Linked DNA regions of Homo sapiens. The protein of the gene in region 3 purifies or fractionates together with the protein of the main gene of each other region. This does not show direct contact. Each region holds a gene or a part of one and is shown on either strand. Other genes may lie near its edges.

The links.
Region 1: the proteins of SYNGR1 (region 3) and SPAG9 purify together in Homo sapiens (affinity purification with mass spectrometry; one large-scale study listed by BioGRID and IntAct). This does not show direct contact.
Region 2: the proteins of SYNGR1 (region 3) and ECSIT purify together in Homo sapiens (affinity purification with mass spectrometry; one large-scale study listed by BioGRID and IntAct). This does not show direct contact.
Region 4: the proteins of SYNGR1 (region 3) and ERGIC2 purify together in Homo sapiens (affinity purification with mass spectrometry; one large-scale study listed by BioGRID and IntAct). This does not show direct contact.
Region 5: the proteins of SYNGR1 (region 3) and MTMR4 purify together in Homo sapiens (affinity purification with mass spectrometry; one large-scale study listed by BioGRID and IntAct). This does not show direct contact.
Region 6: the proteins of SYNGR1 (region 3) and PIGU purify together in Homo sapiens (affinity purification with mass spectrometry; one large-scale study listed by BioGRID and IntAct). This does not show direct contact.
Region 7: the proteins of SYNGR1 (region 3) and RER1 purify together in Homo sapiens (affinity purification with mass spectrometry; one large-scale study listed by BioGRID and IntAct). This does not show direct contact.

The regions. Positions count from the first base shown.
Region 1 is NC_000017.11:50,988,369-50,991,868, forward strand, and holds part of SPAG9 (C-Jun-amino-terminal kinase-interacting protein 4), read right to left. Parts: intron 2,301-3,500; coding exon 2,082-2,300; intron 1,505-2,081; coding exon 1,309-1,504; intron 1-1,308. UniProt on the Homo sapiens protein: The JNK-interacting protein (JIP) group of scaffold proteins selectively mediates JNK signaling by aggregating specific components of the MAPK cascade to form a functional JNK signaling module.
Region 2 is NC_000019.10:11,512,135-11,515,634, forward strand, and holds part of ECSIT (evolutionarily conserved signaling intermediate in Toll pathway, mitochondrial isoform 1 precursor), read right to left. Parts: intron 2,088-3,500; coding exon 1,670-2,087; intron 1,146-1,669; coding exon 922-1,145; intron 1-921.
Region 3 is NC_000022.11:39,383,533-39,386,075, reverse strand, and holds the end of SYNGR1 (synaptogyrin-1), read right to left. Parts: 3' UTR 501-2,543; downstream 1-500. UniProt on the Homo sapiens protein: May play a role in regulated exocytosis. Modulates the localization of synaptophysin/SYP into synaptic-like microvesicles and may therefore play a role in synaptic-like microvesicle formation and/or maturation.
Region 4 is NC_000012.12:29,374,673-29,378,172, forward strand, and holds part of ERGIC2 (endoplasmic reticulum-Golgi intermediate compartment protein 2), read right to left. Parts: intron 1-3,500. UniProt on the Homo sapiens protein: Possible role in transport between endoplasmic reticulum and Golgi.
Region 5 is NC_000017.11:58,497,639-58,501,138, reverse strand, and holds part of MTMR4 (phosphatidylinositol-3,5-bisphosphate 3-phosphatase MTMR4), read left to right. Parts: intron 1-3,500. UniProt on the Homo sapiens protein: Lipid phosphatase that specifically dephosphorylates the D-3 position of phosphatidylinositol 3-phosphate and phosphatidylinositol 3,5-bisphosphate, generating phosphatidylinositol and phosphatidylinositol 5-phosphate.
Region 6 is NC_000020.11:34,667,093-34,670,592, forward strand, and holds part of PIGU (GPI-anchor transamidase component PIGU), read right to left. Parts: intron 1-3,500. UniProt on the Homo sapiens protein: Component of the glycosylphosphatidylinositol-anchor (GPI-anchor) transamidase (GPI-T) complex that catalyzes the formation of the linkage between a proprotein and a GPI-anchor and participates in GPI anchored protein biosynthesis.
Region 7 is NC_000001.11:2,398,341-2,401,840, reverse strand, and holds part of RER1 (protein RER1), read right to left. Parts: intron 2,427-3,500; coding exon 2,327-2,426; intron 985-2,326; coding exon 906-984; intron 1-905. UniProt on the Homo sapiens protein: Involved in the retrieval of endoplasmic reticulum membrane proteins from the early Golgi compartment.

The DNA.
Region 1 (3,500 bases), on a different chromosome or scaffold from region 3:
GGGTTATTAATTAATCTTTCTTACTTTATACACTAAGAATATTAAACTTTAAAAAGGATCTAGTTTAAAGAGACTCTCATCTAGAGGGGATCTAGAAAAGGCAGGAAAGAAAATAAAATAATTCACTAAATGGGCCTAGATTAACCAACCCTTTAACGGAGGAGCCTAAAACAAACAGTTTTCTTTGGTTTGTTTGTTTTCTGAGACAGAGTCTTGTTCTGTTTCCCAGGCGGCAGTGCAGTGGTGATATCATGGCCCACTGTAGCCTCCAGCTCCCAGGGCTCAAGCAATCCTCCCACCTCAGCCTCCTGAGTAGCTGGGACCATAGGTGCACGCTACCACGCCCAGCGAATCATTAAGTTTTTTGTAGAGATGAGGGTCTCACTATGTTGCTCAGGTTGGTCTTGAACTCCTGGACTCAAGCAATCCTCCTGCTCAGACTCCCAAAGTGCTGGGATTATAGGCATGAGCCACTGGAACTATCTGAGTTGTTTTTTAATAAAATATTTGCATGAAAACTAAATTCAAAAAGGTCATCCACACCCATGTGGGAAACTTGTACAATGGCAGATTTAAACAATGGCCAATTTTGCTGATAACTGGAGTGAAAATTAGAGTAGGGGTGGGATTAAAATGACAAAGAATTACTTATAGAATGGAAGACAGTAAGTACAAAAAAAAAGAAAAAAAAACAGATCAGAGGAGAAAATGAACAGAAAGATTTTGACTAATATATAGTCACACACCTGGTAAAACCATTTTGGAAAATGATGGACAGAATATATGGTGGTGGTTCCACAAGATTATACTACTATATTTCTACAGTACCTTGTGCATGTTTACATACACAAATACTTACCGTTATGTTCCAATTATCTACAGTATTCAGTACAGTAACATGCTGTACAGGTTTCTAGCCTAGGAGCAATGGGCTATACCATATGGCCTAGGTGTGTGATAAGCCATACCATCTAGATTTGTGTAAATGCACTCTATGATGTTCACACAATGATGAAATCACCTAATGACACATTTCTCAGAACATATCCCCATTGTTGACTGATGCATGATTATACTTTTATAGATAAGATTTTTTTTTTAAATTGGAAGGTGTACAGAAGAAATGGGGGGGAATATCCAGCGAGAATGATGGAGCGGGAATACATGAAATTATCACAAGAATAGGTATCTTTTAATCCACCACAGTGACACTAATTAGTGGAAATCTTTTGACTGTTTGAGATTATTTTGGTTCCTTTTATTTGTGCACTTCACCCAGTTGCCTAAGTTGATGACCCATTATTATACCTCGACTGATACACTGGGGAGAGGTCTTCTGGGATCTGAACTCCCAAAGGATCTGTAAAGACATGCTCTGTGTAGACGCCAGTTTGGGAGATGTCCACTGTGTCTTCAGCTGACCCCGCATTCCCTTCTGTAGCTTCAGTTGCTTCTTCTGCTGTTGGAACATTTTCATCAACCTCACTATTTTCTGCTTCCATTTCTACAAAGTAAATAAAACACTATTCCAAGTCTGGGCTTTTCTCCTCCAATTATTTCCCCACACAAACCCCTGTTATAGAATTCCATTCCATCTACCCACTCCTTCACACTGTACCATGAAATTAAGAATTCTTCATTCCATTTAACAGTCATTACAGCATTTTTTTTTTTTTTGAGACAGAGTCTTGCTCTGTTGCCCAGGCTGGAGTGCGGCGGCGTGATCTTGGCTCACTGCAAGCTCCACCTCCCAGGTTCACGCCATTCTCCTGCCTCAGCCTCCCGAGTAGCTGGGACTACAGGCACCCGCCACCACGCCCGGTTAATTTTTTGTACTTTTTAGTACAGACAGGGTTTCACTGTGTTAGCCAGGATGGTCTTGATCTCCTGACCTCGTGATCCACCCGCCTTGGCCTCCCAGAGTGCTGGGATTACAGGCGTGAGCCACCACGCCCGGCCTACAGTATCTTCTTTCAAGTTCTTTCAACCTTGTTACTTAAGATCTAAATTAAGTCCATAATGAGGCATCTGAGTGTAGCCTTAGACTCTATACAGATGGCAGGTAAAGAGAATGGATATACCTGGTGGTTTATCCATCACTGGAGAAGCACCATTTGTACTAGGGGAAGTGGCAGCTCCCGTCACACCTTCTGCAGAACAACCAACCACTGTGATGCCTCCTAACAGGCTGTCTGTCTCTGCTGAGCTGTTGCTTGTCATACTTCCACATAAAGATGCTTTGTCTACCTGACCAGATTCTGAAAGATCTTCTCCTGCAGGGTAGTCTGTTTCTCGTGCACCTGAAAAATAAATCTTCTTGTAACAGCAAAGTAAACTTCTATAAATAACATTTTTTTTACTAAAACAATTACAGGTTTGAAATGAGAGTTATGCAGGTGAGATGTACAGGTAGTTGAATACAGGTAGCATTAAATTTACATAAACAAATCTTCACAATATGGGAAGGTAACTTAAAAAATTAAGAAAATACTTCTATTAACACAAGTGCAAATAAACATAAAAATGTCAGAAAATAAACTTTTTTTTTTTTTTTTTTGAGACAGAGTCTTACTCTGTCGCCCAGGCTGGAGTACAGTGGCATGATTCAGCTCACTGCAACCTCCGCCTCCTTGGCTTAAGTGATTCTCCTGCCTCAGCCTCCTGAGTAGCTGGGACTACCGGTGTGAGCCACCACGCCTGGCTAATTTTTGTATTTTTGGTAGAGACAGGGTTTCGGTATGTTGGTCAGGCTGGTCTTGAACTCCTGGCCTCAAGGGATCCACCAACCTCAGACAAGTCCTAGGATTACAGGTGCGAGCCACCACGCCTAGCCAGCTTCTGTTCTTAGTGAGCTCCTCAGCAGCCACAGGTTAAAAACAATCTATTATATCTGACAACATCAGCCAAAAAAAAATTCTTTTAAATCATCAAGACTACTGCTACTACTTGAAGTATAAGCTTCTATCCATTACTGTTAAAAATTAAATGCCCCAAGTATATAGGTTGATTAAGATATTAGTAAAACATTAAAAACTAAGCATTTATAATATAAAAATATTTACAATATAAAAATAAATCTCATTTTTTAATTTAGAAAATTGTTTTATTTATATCACACTAAAAACTTTTATTGCAGTAAAAATAATATATATATAAACAAAATTTGCCACTTTAACCATTTAAAAGTGTACAATTCAGTGGCACTAATATTTACAATATTGGCATTAATATTTATAACATTGTGTAGCCATCACCATTATTTTTTTTTTTTGGCGACAGAGTTTCACTCTTGTTGCCCAGGCTGGTGTGCAATGGTACAGTCTCGGCTCACTGCAACCTCTGCCTCCCAGGTTCAAGCAATTCTCCTGCCTCAGCCTCCCAAGTAGCTGCGATTACAAGCGCCTGCCACTGCACCTGGCTAATTTTTGTATTTTTAGTAGAAACGGGGTTTTACCATGTTGGCCAGGCTGGTCTCGAACTCCTGACCTCAGGTGATCCGC
Region 2 (3,500 bases), on a different chromosome or scaffold from region 3:
ACGAGTTTGAGACCAGCCTGGGCAACATGGTGGAACCCCATTTCTACAAGAAATACAAAAATTAGCCGGGCGTGGTGGTGTACGACTGTAGTCCCAGCTACTTGGGAGGCTGAGGTGAAAGGATGGCTTCAGCCTGGGAGGTGGAATTTGCCGTGAGCCAAGATAGTGCTACTGCGCTCCAGCCTGGGCAACAGAGCCAGACCTTGTCTCAAAAAAAATATGAAGAGGTCTGAGGGGCTTGTTTGCCCCTTATATTATGTGAGGACACAGCAAGGTGTCATCTTTGAAGCAGAGAGCAAACCCTCACCAGACCTAGATCTGGTGGCACCTTGATCTTGGACTTCCCAGCCTCTAGAACTGTGAGCAATAAATTTTTGTTGTTCATCAATGACCCAAGCTAAGAGATTTTGTTAGAGCAGCCTGAACGGACTGAAGCAGAGGTCACTCAAGCTGTGCTAGCAGTAAGGACCATGGGAACCTACCAGGGGACTCAGCCAGAGAATCAGAACTCAATTCACGGCCAGGCACAGTGCCTCATGCCTGTAATCCCAGCACTTTGGGAGGCCGAGGCAGGAGGATTGCTTGAGCCCAGGAGTTCAAGGCCAGCCTGGGCAATATAGTGAGACCCTGTCTCTGAAAAAAAAAAACAGTTTTTTTAATTAGCCAGGCATAGTGGTGTGTGACTGGAGTCCCAGCTACTCAGGAGGCTGAGGTGGAAAGATCGCTTGAGCCTGGGAGGCAGAGGCTGCAGTGAGCCGAGATAGTGCCACCACACTCCAGCCTGGGCAACAGAGCAAGACCCTGTCTCAAAAAAGAACTTGATTCACCACAATCACTAGAGTGAGAGAAGGGGAGCCCAGGGGAGGAATGGCGGGAGCCTGGCCTGGGGTGGCAGCTGACGCTGTAGACAAGGGCGGATACCTGGTAGATGGTGACCCTGGCACTAAGGTCAGGCTCCATGTGCCGCAGGCCAAACATGGCCAGCTCCACAGGGTCCTGGGGCAGGTCCCGGGGCACTGGGAAGGGGTTGACGTTCATGAATCGAGGGAACCACAGCTTCAGGCGCACCAACTTGAGCATGGGGTAGCTTTTGCGTCCAAAGATCTGAATCAGCAGGAACTCCGTCTCCTTGTTGGGCATCACACCTGTGCTGGGCAGATGCAGGCAGAACCTCAGAGATGGAGGGGGAGGAGGGAAGGGAAGAGGAGAAAAGAAAACAGTGAAGTGAGGGAATTGATCACAGACAGGGAGAAAAGAATCAGAGAGAATTAGAAAGAAAAAGGCTCATGCCTGTAATCCCAGCACATTGGGAGGCCAAGGGGAGAGGATCACTTGAGTCCAGGAGTTTGAGAGCAGCCTGGGCAACATAGTGAGACCCCATTTCTAAAAGAAAGAGAGAAAGAGAGGAAGGAAGGGAGGGAGAGAGAGGCAGGGAGGAGAGGAGAAGAGAGGAGAGTGGGGGGAGGAGAGGGAGGGAGGGGGGAGGGGAGGGGAGGTCAGAGGGAGGCAAGAAAGAGAGATGAGTGATGAAAAGAGGGATTCGGAGAGGGAGAAGAGCGAGAGAGACAGAGACGGAGCCATGGAGGAAGGAGGGGCTGAGACTCAGGAGAGGTGCTGCCAGCTATCAGTGTAGCCCACTCCCCACCCTGCGCCAGCCTCCTGGCCTCACCGTGGTTCTCCATCTGCTCCAGGACAGCAATCCCACACTCCTGCTGCCGAGGGTAGTGGACGAAGATGCGCTGGATGATGTTGCGAGGCCGGAAGACCTCCTTGGGGAAGATGTTGAGCAGCTGGTTGTACACAGCCAGGTCCCGCTCGACACCATACTCCCGCATCTTGCGCAGGGCCAGGTAGATGAAGTCAATGTGGCCCCGCTTACGCACGCTGTGCTCCGCAAATTTCTGCACCGTCTGCAGGAAGCTCGCCTTGTCCCGTTCCCCACCAGGCGCCTGCCCAAACAGGTCCTCAAAGGGCACCAGAGCCTTGGTGGGCCTCTGCCGGGGTTCCGGTGGGCTGGGAACCAGGGACTGTTCAGAGCTATGGGCAGCTGCGCTGCAGTGGAGGCCCCGAGGGAGCCGGCGAGGGACCTGGGGAGGGAGGAGAACTGCTGGAATCTGGCACCTCTCAGTGTCTATGGGGGGCCGCCAGGCTGGCTCTTTCCTCAGAGAGGTCCCAGTGGCCTCCCTGAGGACTCGGAGGTATGGAACTGTGGTTACAAACCCAAGATTCGAGGCCATTACAAAGTGCGATAAAACACAATGCTGGCACAGTAGGGAGGAAACAGGCACTGTTAGCCATGGCTACGGGGAGCTGGTAAAAACTGCCACGGAGGCAACTTGGTAATATTCACAGTGATGACACACACATGCCGGTTTTTTTTTGGGTTTTTTTTTTTGGTTTTTTTTTGAGACGGGGTCTGGCTCTGTGGCCTAGGCTGGAATGTAGTGGTGCTACTGTGGCTTACTGCAGCTTTCAACTCCTGGGCTCAAGCAATTCTCCTCCTCACCCTGTCCAGCAGCTGGAACTACCGGTGTACACCACCACACCTGGCTAATTTTTAAATTTTCAGCAGAGACGGGAGTCGCACTATTTTGCCCAGGTTGGTCTTGAACGCCTGGCTTCAAGTGATCATCCCGTCTCCACCTCCCAAAGTGTTGGGATTACAGACATGAGCCACTGTGCCTGGTGGCCCTTTTTGCTTGTAATTTTTTTTTTTTTTTTTTAGACAGAGTCTCATTCTGTCACCCATGCTGCAGCGCAGTGGCGTGACCTCAGCCCACTGCAACCTCTGCCTCCCATGTTCAAGCGATTCTCATGCCTCAGCCTCCCAAGTAAGCTGGACTACAGACGTGCTCCACCACGCCCTGCTAATTTTTGTATTTTTAGTAAAGATGGGGTTTCATCATGTTGGCCAGGCTGGTCTCAAACTCCAGGCCTCAAGTGATCCACCTGCCTCAGCCTCCCCAAGTCTTTTTTTTTTTTTTTTTGAGACAGAGTCTCGCTTTGTCACCCAGGCTGGAGTGCAGTGGCGCGATCTCGGCTCATTGCAAGCTCCACCTCCCGGGTTCACGCCATTCTCCTGCCTCAGCCTCCTGAGTAGCTGGGACTACAGGCGCCTGCCACCACGCCCAGCTAATTTTTTGGATTTTTAGTAGAGACGGGGTTTCACTGTGTTAGTCAGGATGGTCTCGATCTCCTGACCTCGTGATCCGCCCGCCTTGGCCTCCCAAGTGCTGGGATTACAGGCATGAGCCACCGCGCCCGGCGTAGCCACCTTAAGTCTTGAGATTACAGGCATGAGCCACTGTACCCAGCCCCTTCTTTCTTTTTCTTTTTTTCTTGAGACAGAGTTTCACTCGTCGCCCAGGCTGGAATGCAATGGTGTCATCTCAGCTCACTGCAACCTCTGCCTTGTGGGTTCAAGCGATTCTCCTGCCTCAGCCTCCCAAGTAGCTAGGATTACAGGCGCCTGCCACCATGCCCAGCTAATTTTTATGTTT
Region 3 (2,543 bases):
GCTTCAACTGTAATAATTTTCCTTTTTTTTTTTAGATGGATTTTTGCTCTTGATGCCAAGGCTGGAGTGCAATGGCACAATCTTGGCTCACTGCAACCTCTGCCTCCCCGGTTCAAGTGATTCTCCTGTCTCAGCCTCCCGAGTAGCTGGGATTACAGGCGTCTGCCACCACACCCGGCTAATTTTTTTTTTTTTTTGTATTTTTAGTAGAGACAGGTTTTCACCATGTCGGTCAGGCTGGTCTCGAACTCCTAACCTCAGGTGATCCACCCACCTTGGCCTCCCAAAGTGTTGGGATTACAGGCATGAGCCACTGCAGTCGGCCAATTTTACTTTTTAAAAAGATAATATATTCATAGGTTCATTGTGTAATGAAAAATTAACAAACAATAATAACCAAGTAAGACATGGCCTGTCTAAGGAGACAAACGGGATGGAGCATCCAAGCCAAACGCAGAATGAAGAACAAAGAAACACGGTGACACACTTGCAATCGCTGGTGGGTTCTGAGTCTTCACTTTATTACTATGTCACCAGAAGTCACCACCTTCACTTGGTTCACCACAGATGGATGGATGTCATAAAGGAGGGTGCCACGGGGCCACTGGATTCACTCGAGACTTAACCAGGTGGTGGGGGGGTCTAGAGTGGGGGCCCAGGATGGGGACCGCCCTTCACCGCACACACACGCACACACACACACAGATATATTTGTGGAGCCTTATATTATACATCTTATATATAGAAAATATATATATTTATACTATACACAGGCAGTAACGCTGCGGGAGGGGCCGGGGCACCGACAAGGGCTGTGCGCACCAGGACATGGGGAGTGTCAGGTCAAGTGCATCGCTGGGAGGCAGCCGGCCCAGTCCCTTCTCCCATAAACTCCTGGGAGGGGCATTCCCCCTTTCGTGCTCCTTAGAGAATCAAAGGGGTCTTGGGCCAAGGTTAGGGGTCTCCCAGGGCTAACAGGCAGGGTGTCTCAGTTACATGGGGAAACCTGGGATCCCCGAGGCTTTGAAGATCAAGAATCACCAGGGAAGGATGGAGTAGGGAACTAACGTCAGTCCCCTGGGAATTAGCCCCTCAACTGCGACACCCCCAGGTGGATAGGAGCCGTGCAGGCAGGACAGTCTGTGACTGCCCAGGATGAGCCAACTCAGAAGGCAGAAGACCTGACTCCTGAACCTCTCCCTCTGTGCTTGACCTTGGACAAGTCGCTGTCTCCCTACCCCAGACTCTGCCGACTCTAAGCGTCCTTGCGACTCTACACTTATGTGAAACCTTTTTTCCTGGGCCCTCTCTTGTGCTTGATGGGGAGGAGGGAGCCACCCTGCAGGGTCCAGCTGCAGGAGGGCCCTTCTCCAAGGAAAGCTTTGGGAGCAAGGGAGAAGTAGGGGAGGGCAGCTGGGAGGAAAAGGGATACCGGACAGAGTTGGGCCTGGGGTTCCCCAGGGGCTGTCCTCTGCCAACAGAAGGAGCGAGTTTCCCCATGAACCTTCCAGGGCAGAGTCAGGAGCCCTGGGTCCCATCCAAATCTCGCCCTCCATCTCTCACCCTCTCTCATCTCCATCCTGGGCAGGTCCCTGCCAGAGCCCAGCCTGATGGGGAAGATCATGCCTGGAAGGGCTTCTGGGCTGAACCCGGGAAGAGTGAGGGATTCTTCGTGAGATGACTCAGCACCCCCCATTCCTGGCAGGAGTCTTGACAGCTTTCCCTGCCTAGGGTGGCAGGCAGGGCCTGTCACAAACACCCAAGATGGAGTTAAGCTTACCTGGTACCCTGCCCTCCGGCTGAGGATCACCAGCAGCTGGCTGGCACCCGAGGAGAAACAGATGGGCAGTACCCTGAGGTCTCCTAGTGCCCATCAGCAGGAGAGGCTTTTGGTGGACAGTGGGTGAGGGTCAGAACATCTCACAGCCTCTTGTGGTGGGCACAGAACTTCACTCTGCCATAAACACTCCTGCCCTCACTCACGCCCTCACCTTTGGCCTGGTACAGGTTTCACTCTTCAGGCCAACAGATAACCTGCCCCCATGCTGGTCCCATGTGGGCCACCTGGCGGCGGGGGACTGTGGACAGAGCCCCTTCTCCGGATTGGAAAATGAAGTCAGCAACAACCAGCTGTCACACAGCTGGCTGGGGTCCTCTCCATCACTGCTGTCCTTTGGGAGGACTTGGACACACCTGAGTTTAGATCCGTGTTCCACTGCCAACTCGCCTATGCTTGCCGAGCCTCAGTTTCCCTTCTGTTAAATGGGGATAATGGTGCTACTTCTCTGCTTAGGACTTCCTCCTCTTTCCCTTAACTCTGGCCCAGCTTTGGGGCCATCGAAGCAGGGACCACCCATGCCCTTGGTATCTCCAGCACAGGGGCCGGGTAACTGCTGAGTGAGTAAGCAGGTGAGGGATCGCCTGCCTCTTAGGATTCTTAGATGGGGGATGGGGGGATGGTGGTGAAAACACCCAGCACTGGGCCCGTCCACCACCTGCTCTGCTCTGCTCCCTGAAGGACAGGCCAGTGGACACTGGGTGGA
Region 4 (3,500 bases), on a different chromosome or scaffold from region 3:
GAAACATGGGTTATATCTTTAGACTTAAGCTATTTCTAAATTTCTCTTAAATCTGCCTGTCTTCTCTTCTTCAGGCCTACTGAGAAATTCCTTATGTCCAAGTATGTTCCTAGTCCCAACTGCCACAATCTATCACTACATTGCTTCAACAACCTCTAATCTTCAACCTTCCAATTCTCTCTCTATACTGTAATAATAAATTATCTTTTTAATACATAAATCTGATATTTCTCTTCAAATCTTTGTAAAACTTCCCTTCCCACTACACTTAAGAGCTTGGATTCTATCCTAACATGTTTTACAAAGCCCTTCAAAAACCAGGTCCTGCTAACCTCTCTTCAAACCCAATCACTCACAGTCTACGTTCCAACCATATTAAATCACTTTCAATTCCTTAAATATCCTATTCTCTTTGCCAGAAATATTTTTTCTTCCCCCTACCGCATCTCTACATTTGACTAACTCCTACTTACTCTTCAAGGTCCAGTCTACTCATCTCTACCTTGAGCAAGCAGGGGGAACAAAAAAACTTTCCATGGCCTTCAAAGTCTATCTGCTTCTAGAACGTTGTACCTTTATCACACTATTTCTAATTGCCTCTTTTTCTGTTTCCTCCACCGGATTGTTAGAGCAGGAACCATGTCTAACTTGATCTTTGTATCTCCAATGCCTAGCGAACAGGTATTCAATATTTATTGAGAAAAGGAAGGAAGGAAATTTTCCCAGAAACACCACAGTAGCACATCTTTCAAATCACAGCAGTATGTCATACTTAGGTAAGTAAATATATAAAAATAAGATCCACAAGAAGGATTTTCCTGTTGTCTACTGTCCCAGGACCTAGAACAGTGGCCATCACATAGTCAGTATAGCACTGTTAAACAAATGAATAAAACAGTGAATTACATTTCTAAAAGTTTATATAAATGTTATATTTGTATAATGAGCTTTCTAAATGCTCTTTTAATTTATATATAAGCATAAAGATACGGCAAGCAGTTAGTTTTACAAATCTCCTAATAATACATACAACCTATTCAACACTCCTCCCTTGAAAGTCTAGCTGGAATATATCATGTGGCTCCCTACCCATCTCTAGCTTCCTCCATCCCTGTTTTCCAGGGGATATCACTCTAGAATGGAGCACCTCGCCCCTCAGCTACTCCACCAGTCCCATTCCTGAAAGCTCAGCACTAACCTACCTCCAAGAAATTCATTCCATTTTGCATACTTGCCAACCTACTGTAAAAGTCACTGTCTGGCATAAACAAGGTATCCAATAACTTCTAGCTTTTCTAAAAGAAATTGCTGTCTGCTCTCTTTATAAAACCTGACTTTCTATTGGCAGCAGTTCCATTCCAATCCTTAGTCATTTCTGAGACTCACAGGTTACAGAAGTATCATGTTTTACCATATTTCTCAACCATCTCTCATGTTTTGTGCTATGTATTATTTGAAGCTCTTTAAACATTAATTCATTTAATCTTGTAAATGACTCTATGAAGCAGCAGGTACTATTTTTAATCCTACTTTTTGATGAGGAAATGAGGCACAGAACTGTCAAATAATTTTCCCAGGCTACATAGCAGGTGGTAGAACTTGAAACTATGCTCCAAACCACAGTACACACTGATTCTCACTTCCGTACTTGTTGCTATATTCCACTAACATCTGAATATATTCATAATTTGCTTAATGACTTCAGCACCCAGATCATTCAATATGCTTCTCCCCCACTCCATTATCATCCTTTGGAATTCATGCTCTGATGGCATTTATCCTATAGCATTCATTCACAATAAAACCTTTTTACCATGTAAGCTTAACAGCGCTTCTCCTCCTGTGACCTCCATCTTAATTCTATGGAAAGCCACCCATGAGCAAGGTCAACCCTTAAAACTGTTCCACCTCTAAAATCCAAAACACATTTACCTCCCCAAGTAGGAACTACCCTTCAAGCTCTTTCCTAAGATAAATCTGCTCTTCATTTTCACTGGTGTTCTCAAATCCTTTAAATCCTACCAGATACCCAATTTCATTGCTCCATTCCCACTCTATTTGCCTCTCTACTCAGTGTGGTAAGCCATTTTCAAAAATGTGTTTGGAAATACCTCAGATCATCAATGCTTGCCAGAAGTCATTGCTATTCTGTGACAAAATTTTCTAGTCATGGACAACGTAGAAAAGAACTTTTAAAGCTAAATTTATTCCATTTTAAAATGTGTCCTTTATTCTGAGATTATTTTATTCCATTTTGTCAAAACAGCCTTTCCTTTATGAAATGATAAAAACAGATATAACAGAGGTTGTTTTGTTTTTGGATGTCTTTATTCAGCAAAATTAAAAAATGTAATTCTAGGTCAGTTTTTATACCCAGCCCTTTTCCCTGTCCACACGGCCCGCCCCTCTCAAATAGATATACATTTTCTTGTATTGGTCCACAAAATCTAGTTAGAAGCCGTTACACAAGATTCCTTTGCCCACTGGTTGGTGCTGCTATTCATACCTTGACAATCTCCAGTACTATGTCTGTTTTCTTTGATGTCTCTCCTTAAACTGTCTTGAATATTAAAAAACAAAACAAACATAAATAAACTCCAGAAAGTCACTGATAACAGCTGGAGCTAAGACAAGACAGTTGTCCCTCAGTATCCATGGGGTATTGGTTCCAGGACCTCCCTTGGATATCAAAATTCTCAGATGCTCAAGTCACTGACATAAAATGGTGTAGTTTTTGCATATAACCTATGCACATCCTCTTGTATACTTTAAATGATCTTTAGACTACTTATAAAACCTAATATAATGTAAATGCTATGTAAATAGTTGTACTGTTTAGGAAATAATGAAAAGAAAGAAGTCTGTAAGTATTCAGTACAGACACAATACTTGTTCAGTAGGCATGCAATTTTTCCTTCTTGAATATTTTCAATCTGCAACTGGTTGAGTCCACAGATGCAGAATCCACAGATATGGAGGGGTGACTGTATTTTGAAAAACTTCCTAAGACATAAGAGACTCCCTTTCAGGTTGGAACACAGACATTATCAACACTCACTGTAAGTAAAGTCACACAGCCTATATTTCATCATTGTATCCATCTGAATATAATGAGACTATTAAATGCTTTACCAAAATTAAAATACAGAATTCATGAACTTTTTATAGTCTGCTCAGTTAAGTTTAATTCTCCAAAGAAAAATGAAGACAAAAGTTATTTCCTGCTACCCAAGTTTTGAGTTAACTTCTATTTTTAATACATATTTGGCAATATGAGAAAAATTTAATTGGTTAATACATATGGCCAAGTTGCAGTCTGAACTGTGTCAACTCACAATTTGATACGTTGAACAAGATATGTTGAAGTCTCAACCTCTGGTATCTATGAATGGGCCTTATTTGGAAATATTTGAGTCTTTCAGATATAACTAATTAAGATGAGATCATACTGGATCAGGGTGCTCCAAAATCTGAGACTGGTGTCCTTTTAAGAAGGCCAT
Region 5 (3,500 bases), on a different chromosome or scaffold from region 3:
GTTTTAGGGTCTTTTGAACTAAGTCATTGTGAGGGGACCGTGATAGGTTTCAGGATTTCAGTGATTTTTTTTTTCCTTCCCCAAACTATGCAGAATTTGGCTACAGGTTCATAGGTTTACTTTTCCTGGGAGAGGGGCCATAACTTTTAATCAAATTTTTAATAAGCTCTGTGACCCATTTAATAATCATTTCATTAACTTAGTATCTGATTTATCAATTCAACAAATGTTTCTTTAATACCTACAAGTTGCGTATTACTGTACTAGGTTTTGTGGGCTACAGCAAAGAAATAGAAGATATTGGTTCTACTTTCAAGATAATTTTAAGCTGTAAGATAAGACACAGAACAACTAGAGAGAGCAATTCTTTTTTTTTTTTTTTTTTTTTTTTGAGACAGAATCTCGCTCTGTCACCGGTTGGAGTGCAGTGGCGCAATCTTGGCTCACTGCAACCTCCGCCTCCCGGGTTCAAGTGATTCTTCTGTCTCAGCCTCCCGAGTATCTGGGACTACAGGTGCCCACCACCACACCTGGCTAGTTTTTTGTATTTTTAGTAGAGACGGGGTTTCACCATGTTGGCCAGGATGGTCTCGATCTCTTGACCTCGTAATCTACCCGCCTCGGCCTCCCAAAGTGCTGGGATTACCAGACCCGGCCAACTAGAGAACAATTCTAAGTCAACATCTAAGCAGATAAGAATGTGTGTAGTTCAGGCTGGGTGCAGTGGCTCATGCCTGTAATCCCAGCACTTTGGGAGGCCAAGGTGCGCAGATTGCTTGAGCCCAGGAGTTTGAGACCAACCTGGGCAACATGGTAGAACCCCACCTCTACAAAAAATGCAAAAATTAGCCAGGCATGGTGGCGTGCGCCTGTGGTCCCAGCTACTTGGAGGGCTGACGTAGGAGGATTGTTTGCTCCCAGCAGGTTGAGGCTGCAGTGAGCTGTGATCATGCCATTGCACTCCAGCCTGGGTGACACAGCGAGACCTTGTCTCAAAAAAACAAATGTGTGTAGTTCAAAGCTTTAGAGAAATGATGTGTTTTTTAAAAGGGTCACTTGGTGGCTGTTTTACTCAGGAAATTTTCATGAAGGACCAGACAAGAACTGTGGGTCTTTTTGTGTTCTGTGTATCTGGCTTAGAACCTGGCACGTAATAAGTAAATTTAAATAAATTTACTAAAGTAAAAATTTACTTAAAACTGGACAAATGGCTGGGCGTGGTGGCTCATGCTTGTAATCCCAGCACTTTGGGAGGCCGAGGCGGGCGGATCATGAGGTCAGGAGATCAAGACCATCCTGGCTAACACGGTGAAACCCCGTCTCTACTAAAAATACAAAAAAAAAAAAAATTAGCCGGGCGTGGTGGCAGGCGCCTGTAGTCCCAGCTACTCTGGAGGCTGAGGCAGGAGAATGGTATGAACCTGGGAAGGCGGAGTTTGCAGTGAGCAGAGATCGCGCCACTGCACTCCAGCCCGGGCAACAGAGTGAGACTGTCTCAAAAAAAAAAAAAACTGGACAAATGAATGAAATAAAGGGAGTTGTGAGCTCAGTAACAAGGTTAGTGGAGAGGGGTCCAAAGCAAGTGGATACATGAGAGGTAGGGTTTTCTCGCTCCATTGCCCAGCTGGAGTGCAGTCACATGATCTTCTCAGCTCACTCCGCCCACCGGGTTCAAGTGATTCTTCTGCCTCAGCCTCCCGAGTAACTGGGATTACAGGTGTGTGCCACTACACCTGGCTAATTTTTGTATTTTTAGTAGAGACGGGGTTTCGCCATGTTGGCCAAGCTGGTCTCGAACTCCTGACCTCAAGTGATCCGCTCACCTTGGCCTCCCAAAGTGCTAGGATTATAGGTGTGAGCCACTGCACCTGGGTGAGAGGTAGTTTTTTTTTTTTTAAAAAAAAAAGAAGTTCTGTGGCTGGCAGGGGTTGAGAAGGGGCTATTTTAAGGAATAGTGGAAATATAGGACAGGTCATTGAGGGCATTGAAGGCTTTAAACATTACAGTGAAGAGTTTATTTTGATTCAGTTGTCAATAGGAAGTCATTGTAGGAAGTTACTGTGGTCTGCTGACAGTGGGATCCTTGGAGAACTAATCAGTGAGTACAGGGTAGCTGGAGGCACAGAGACCAGCCAGCACTGCTGTAGTAGTTCAGATATGAGGGGAAGAGTCCCTGGCAAAGAGAAAGGATTAAATTCAGAAGCACTGTAGAGAACCATTGGCAGGCTACAGAATTGAAAGTTGGAGAGTAGAAGTGAAAAGTACTTTGGGTCCCAAGTATCTGAGCTTAAAAAGTAGGAGAATATTAGTACCACTAATAGACATTGAAAGGTCGAGAAGACCAGCCAGTTTGGGGAGAAAGCGGAGATACAGGGAAATTGGGATTGAAATATTAGTTGACAGCAAAGAAGGAGGTGTGTTGTAGGCAGCTCAAGATGGAGAGTAGATTTCGAGAAATAATTGGTATAAAGATTTTAAAGGAAATGGTCTCTGTAACAACTGACCTGACTTACCTTTGATTCTACCTTTCCCTAGATCAAAAATGTCCTTCTTCTTCTCCTTCTTCTCCCCCTCCTCCCCCTCCTCCCCCCTCCTCCCCCCTCCTCCCCCGCTTCTCCTTCTCCTTCTCCTCCTCCTTCTTCTTCTTCTTCCATTAAAGTCATAAACACATTCTTCTATACCCATCTCAAATCCTACCCTCTCTCTGTAGCCTTCCTTGACCTCCTAGCTGGATGAGCTCTCTCTCCTTGTTGTAAACTCAGGTATTATTATCTCTGTCAACATTGCTGACTAACCTTTGGTACACATAGAATGAGTTGTGGAGGATGGCAGAATGTTGTTATTTGAATTTGGATGAAGAGCACATGGAAGTTAATTATATTCTTCTTTTTGTTGTTGTTTGAGACAGAGTCTTGCTCTGTCACCCAGGCTGGAATATAGTGGTGCGATCTCGGCTCACTGCAACCTCTGCCTCTTGCCTCCCAGGTTCAAGCGATTCTCATGCCTCAGCCTCCCAAGTAGGAGCTGGGTTTACAGGCATGCACCACCATGCCCAGCTAGTTTTTGTATTTTTAGTAGAGATGGGATTTCACCATGTTGGCCAGGCTGGTCTTGGACTTGTGGCCTCGAGAGATCTGCCTGCCTTGACCTCCCAAAGTGTTGAGATTATAGGCATGAGCCACTGTGCCCAGCATATTCTTTACTTCTTTTGTATGCTTGAAAGTTTCCATAATAAAAAATAAAATGAAAGAAGTCAGCTGTGGCACTTAAAAGAATACAGATCCCTAGGCCCCACTCTTGGCCATTCTTATTCAGTAGGTCTTGGGTGGACCCTGGTTGTCTGGATGTCTAAGAAGATCCACTAAGATGCCTGATGTGTATCACACATTCAATTGGCACCTAGCAGTGGAAACCTCATGTTGTATTTTGAGCTCATTCATTCATTTCTCAAGTCATTTGCCCCTGGTACTGTGCTAGGCGCTGGGGATTCAAATAAGACA
Region 6 (3,500 bases), on a different chromosome or scaffold from region 3:
TGGCCTCCCAAAGTGCTAAGATTACAGGCATGAGCCACTATGCCTGGCCAATAATTCTTAGTTACCTTGGTATACTTTTCCTATGGGTGATAATAAAAGCATATCATCCTGTATAAGACAAATATTATTTTTCAGTTTCCCGTATCAATAAGGACAAAAGCTTGTTCAAAAGCAGTAGTGTCCCTATACTTCTAGCTGAGGGCCTAAGAAGCAGCATCACTCCAGCTGCAATGAACACACCTAGCATTCAGAACTTTGTTTCTAAATAACATTCTCTAATAAAAGGAGCCAGGGCCCTTGAAGAAGTGGTCAATTCCAGGGCTGAACTAAGCAAGATAAACCTGGATCATCTTATAGTTCTAGAATGTAATAAAGTGCTTTTAAAAAAAAAAAGTGAGATAGAGGTATGGCAAAAGGACAAAGGGGTCAAGATGAAAGCGGTCCCAATGGCCAAAACTAGAATAATCCAAACAACAGAATGAATATAGTATACAGAGTCCAGAGTATAAAATATCCAAATCTATACTGACATAAATAGTTAAATAAATGCAAAGAAATGACAACTCTTCCTTACAGAAGAATTTTAATTATTAAATAAAAATGAATGAGAGAAACAGAAAAGTCACCATTGAAACACCTGAGTAATGACTGTTACAGGCAAGATTAACCTATGAATGCAAAAATTAGTAGGCAAAAATTTAAAAACAGGATATTTGCAGAGCTCCAAAGAATAGCCCCTAAAATGCTGATTAATTACAAAGGGAAACAGTCACTTTATGGTGGAGAAATCTGGCAGACACTACATTAACCAAGGGATTATGGCTGACATCACCAGTATTAGGGCATTTCAATATGCACCCCTGATCCAATGCACTGAGAGGACCATATCATCTCAGGGGTATTCTTCCCCAAAATCCATTACCTCCGTCAAACCACAAGAAAACATTAGACAAAACCAAATTGAGGGACATTCTACAAAATACCTGACCAGAGCTCTTCAAAGTGTCAAGGTCATAAAAGATGAGGAAATGCTAAGGAACTATCACAGATAAACGACTAAGGAGATATAACAACTAAACGCAATATGTGGCCAGGCGCGGTGGCTCATGCCTGTAATCACAGCATTTTGGGAGGTCGAGGCAGGTGGATCACCTGAGGTCAGGAATTCGATACCAGCCTGGCCAGCATGGTGAAACCCCGTATCCACTAAAAATACAAAGATTAGCTGGCATGGTGGCAGGGACCTATAATCCCAGCTACTCGGGAGGCTAAGGCAGGAGAATCTCCTGAATCTGGGAGGTGGAGGTTGCAGTGAGCCGAGATCTCGCCACTGCACTCCAGCCTGGGTGACAGAGCGAGACTCCGTCTCAAAAAAAAAAAAAAAAAAAAAAGGGGGGGGCGGGCGTGCTGGCTCACACCCGTAATCCCAGCACTTTGGAGGCTGAAGTGGGCAAATCATGAGGTCAGGAGATCGAAACCATCCTGGCTAACATGGTGAAATCCCATCTCTACTAAAAATATAAGAAATTAGCCAGGCGAGGTGGCGGGCACCTGTAGTCCCAGCTACTCGGGAGGCTGAGGCAGGAGAATGGCATGAAACCGGAAGGCGGAGCTTGCAGTGAACCAAGATCGTGTCACTGCACTCCAGCCTGGGTGACAGAGCGAGACTCTGACTCAAAAAAATAAATAAATAAATAAATAAAATAAAAATAAAAATGCAATATGGAATATTAGATCATAGAACAGAAAAAAAATTAGTGAAAAAATGGTAAAACTTTTTTTTTTTTTTTTTTTTTTTTTTTTTTTTTACACAGGGTCTTGCTCTGGTGCCAGGCTACATACAGTGCAGTGGCATGATCATAGCTCAATGCAGCTTCCTCATCCCAGGCTCAAGCAATCCTCCCACTTCAGCTTCCCAAGTAGCTGGGACCACAGGTGTGCGCCACCAAACCAGCTAACTCTTTTTTAATTTTATGTAGAGAGGGAGTCTCCCTATGTTGCCCAGACTGGTCATAAATTCCAGAGCTCAAGGCATCCCCTCGCCTCAGCCTCCCAAAGTGCTGAGATTATAGGCATAGCCACTGTGCCCAGCAAAAATGGTAAAATCTTAACAACTATGGTTTAGTTAATAGTATTGTACCAATGCTATCATCTTAGTTTTGATCACTGTACTATGACTATGTAGGATATTAACATTGGGGGAAGCTGGGTGAAGGGTATACAGATCTCTCTGCAATATTTTTGCAAGTATTCTGTAAGTTTAAAATGATTTCAAGTAAAAAGCTAAAAAACAGGCTGGTGCAGTGACTCATGCCTGTAATCCCAGCACTTTGGGAGGCAGAGGCAGGTAGATCACTTGAGGTCAGGAATTCAAGACCAGCCTGACCAACATGGTGAAACCCTATCTCTACCAAAAATACAAAAATTAGCTGGGTGTGGTGGCACACACCTGTAATCCCAGCTACTCAGGAGGCTGAGGCAAGAGAATTGCTTGAACCCAGGAGGTGGAGGTTGCAGTAGGCCAAGATCACACCACTGCACTCCAGCCTGGGCAACAGAGTGAGACTCTGGCTGAAAAAAAAAAAAAAAAGTAAAAAACAAAAAACAGTGGTATCTAGTCTCTGGATCCAGCTGCCTATTTGCAGGAAATAGAGATGATAGAGGAACATGTTAAATTGTATCATGATATATAATCAGGAAAATTCAAACTATGGGAGATCTGTCTGGATTCTTCAATAGATAAACACTATGGAAGAGAAAGGGAACCTGGGACCCTAAAAATTAAGAGAGATTGAAAACACAAACAAAAACTTTTTTCTTAGGGGCAAGACTAAGCCTAACGGCAAATGAACTAGGGATGTTCATTTGAGTAATAAAACTTTTAAAAATACAAAGATGTCATTACATATAAAAGTCAGGATAATAGTTACTTATGAAAAGAGTGAGGGGATTGTGACGAAGGGGGGCTTCTGAAGTGAGTGGCAAAGTTCTGATTCTTGACTTGGATGACAGTTACAAAAATGTTCACCTTACAATAATTCACCATAGAATACATTGTTATGTGTGTCTTACAAATTCTGTTTAATTTTGTAATAACGGCTTTTTTTTTTTTTTTGAGACAAAGTCTTGCTCTATTGCCCAGGCTGGAGTGCAGTGGCATGATCTCAGCTCACTGCAACCTCCACCTCCTGAGTTCAAGTGATTCTCCTGCCTCAGCCTCCTGAGTAGCTGGGACTACAGGCTCCTGCCACCACACCCAGCTAATTTTTGTATTTTTAGTAGAGACAAGGTTTCACCATGTTGCCTAGGCCGGTCTCGAACTCAAGCTCAAGCAATCTACCCACCTCCCACCTTAGCCTCCCAAAGTGCTGGGATTACAGGTGTGAGCCACCTCGCCTGGCCATAAAGGCTTTTTTAAGTAGTGGTATCAGAAGTGCTCTTCCTGACCCTGATTCTTTTATTTTTGAGACAAGGTCTTGTTCTGTCGCCCAGGCTGGAGT
Region 7 (3,500 bases), on a different chromosome or scaffold from region 3:
TGGCATGGCCACCAGTGCTCCCTCCCGTCCCAGCACATGGCCAACAGATGCCACGGCCCTGGAGGCTCAGCTCTCCCTTCCTAGTCCAAGCTTCTGGTGGCTTCCAGGGCCCCTGATCTTTCTGTACCACACTCCATCTGCGGCTGCAAAGTCAAGGCGTGGAGCCCCACGAGCTCAGCAGGCTCCTTCAGTTTACTGATCTAACAGACTTGGGTTCCTCCTGTGCTCCCAGAGTGGGGTATGAGGGACAAGACAAACGGATGCACACGCTCCCGTCCCTCTGACGGCTGCACCACCCACCTCTGCCTACCCGTGCAGACACGGACACCTCGGCTCAAACCCCTCTCAAAAATGACTCCAGGAGAAGGCTAGTCCCTCTGCCAGCCAAAAGGAGCCACAAGGCTGGGGATGGGAGAGAGGAAGGAGGAAGGAGGGAGGAGGAGGGAGGAGGAGGGAGGAGGAGGGAGGAAGGAGGGAGGAGGAGGGAGGAAGGAGGGAGAAGGAGGGAGGAGGAGGCAGGAAGGAGGGAGGAGGCGGCAGGAAGGAGGGAGGAAGGAGGAGGGAGGAGGGAGGGTGGAGGAGGGAGGAAGGAGGGAGGAAGGAGGGAGGAAGGGAGGAGGAGGGAGGAGGAGGGAGGACAGAGGGCCTGCCCTCCCCAGGCCACAACCACAGAAGCCGGTGCGCACTCCATCCCAGACTCAACCTCCAGGGCACTGGTGCTGACTTGAAACCAAGAGAATGCGGCAAGGTAGTGAGTGGCCTTCTACAGAGAGCCCCTGCGATTCCCCGTGCCCAGCCCAGCACAGCAGTCATCTTTCAGGTGACTTGAACAAAAATCAGTGTAGTCTCAGTCTCAGCCACCCTTGAGCACAATTCTCTTCAAATACCGTGAAGAATTAGCTCACCAAAATTTAAACTCTGGGAGCCTTCGAATGAAGGGGCGGAATTCCTCGTTCTGTTTGGTGGGTAGCGAAGGACCGTCATCTGTAAGGCAGAGCAACCATCAGGGAGGGCACCTCTTTTCATTCCCATCACAGTTCTACCTTTTCCCCTCAAGGCTTTGGACTAGCAGGCCTCACAAATCTAAACCGAGATTCATGTCATTTAACCAGAGAAAACGAGAAAACGGGGGTCTGTGGTCAACTGACACATCCAATTCACTGCTTTCAGAAGGTGCTATCAGAATGTTTTTAGACTTCCACACGTTTTCAATGCACGAAGAATTCAACCACATATAAACATCCAGGAACACGTCAGCTGCACCACGTAAAGGCACAGAAGAAAACAAAGGCAAATTAACATAAAAAGCAAGCGGCAGAGAACAGGGCGGGGCCGAGGATGCGCTGACCGTGGAACCCGGGCGCCAGGCCTGTCCCACCAGCAGCTGTGCCAAGCCCACTCTCACCCCGCCTCCCCCACTGGGATGGGTGCCGCTCCCCATTTACAGATGGGAAAACTGAGGCCTACAGGAAAGGGGCTCTTTGTTATTTTCTAGTCTCCTCCAAACAGCAACAACAGAGAGGGGCTGTGTTCCCAGCAATCTTTTCATCACATATCCTACACAGAAGACTCACAGGCTTCTGGCCACACAGTGAGAGCATACCCTACTCCCTGACAGCAGGTTCCCCCAGAACGAGGAGGGTCCTGGCAGGGAGCTGCGTGTGGGTTTTCCCTCAATGGCCACCACGTCCTGGAATGCAGTTGTTTGTTCCTCGCCTGGGGCTGGCCAGTCAGGCATGAACTCAGGGCCCCTACCTGGCCCAGGCAGGCCCAGGAGCTGCGTAAGTCTTCCAATAGTGGAGCACGAAGCACCAGGAACACTTCAGCTCACAGCTCCTCAGAAACCAGAGAAGGCCGCCCAAAGCCTGACCCGACCCGATGCTGGCATTAGAGTCCCGGCGGTCTCTGTGCACCACAGTGAGCTGCCTGTGGAACCCTCTGGCTACGGGAAAAGGTAACCTCGTCATGGCTGCCTCCGCTGATTCTGAGAGGGACCACTGACTGGGGTGGGACGGGGGCTGGAGTCGGACTGTCCACCTCAGACCCCTACTGTCTGTGGTGCCATGTGACCTCGAACACGTTACCTAACCCTGTATGCCTCAGTTTCCTCATCTGCAAAGTGGGAAAACAGAATGAACACCCACTTCGTGGCTGTCAGGAGGGTTTGAAGAGTCATTCTACAAACATATCCTGATCACCCAACATTACAAGTACATTTCAACCCCAAGAGAAGAGTCTCGGGTGTTTCCAGAGAACACTGGGCAATCCCATCAGAAAAGAAAGGCCCAACCTGCCCACACAGCCCAGTGCACAGCCGCTACCCTACCTGAGTCTTCCATTAAGGAAGGATCCACTTTGGGAGAAAGAAAAGCTATGAAAAGATTTAGATGGTAGATCCCCAAGGCATAGGTCACAATGTACCAACCCTGAAAGAGAAGGAAAGAGAGTCAGTGGTGCACTCTGACCGTCCATCAGCCTGAGCCAGTTCACGTTTGCACTCCGGTTCACTCTCAACTTTGTTAACTGATCTAACTTTGTTTTAACACAAAACTTACTCATAGCAAGGACAAGGAAATACAGTGAAATCCCATGGTAACAATTTATCTCAAATTATACTCTGTGGGAACAGAGACAAAGCGGACAAGCAAGGGCCCAAATGAGCAAAGCTCTTCAAGGGTCCAGTTAGACACATGTGATCCCTGAAGCCACAGACGCCCCACAAGGAGCGCAGCAGAAAAGGAGGCTTTTCTCAAGAAGCACATGCTCAAGCTACACCACAGGCTCGGGTGGCCCGGGCACCTGAGCGATGCTGGCCCAGAGCCCCACCCAGGAGCAGCTTCATCAGAAACAGAAGACAGACTCTCAACTGTGACTGGAGGCGTGCTGGCTGATGTTCCTCCAACAGACAATTCACATTGCCAAAAACACTCTGCCAGGAGGGTTAAACCTTTGCCCAGAAGAAATCCACAACTGGGAAATCCAGAAAAGTGTGCTTATGCCAAGCCTTCCTCAAGAGATGAAAAGTGGGGAGAATTTTGGCAAGATGCCTGAGTGCAGCACACTTATTTGCAACTAATTCATTTTTTAAAATGATTAAGCATATCCCGTTAAAAGCCAGAACCGCATTCTCAATTTCAAAAGCCTTAAATTTCTGTCGGGTGTGGTGGCTCACGCCTGCAATCCCAGCACTTTGGGAGGCCAAGGCGGGTGGATCACCTGAGGTCAGGAGTTCAAGACCAGCCTGGCCAACATGGTGAAACCTCGTCTCTACTAAAAATACAAAAATTAGCCAGGCATGGTGGCACATGCCTGTGATCCCAGCTGCTCGGGAAGCTGAAGTAAGAGAATCACTTGAACCCAGGAGGTGGAGGTTGCAGTGAGCCAAGATCAGGCCACTGCACTCCAGCCTGGGCGACAGAGTGAGACCCCATCTCAAAACAATAAATAAAAATATAAATGCTTTAACTTTCTTATACAAACAAGAAGTCTTTCTGCCTAAA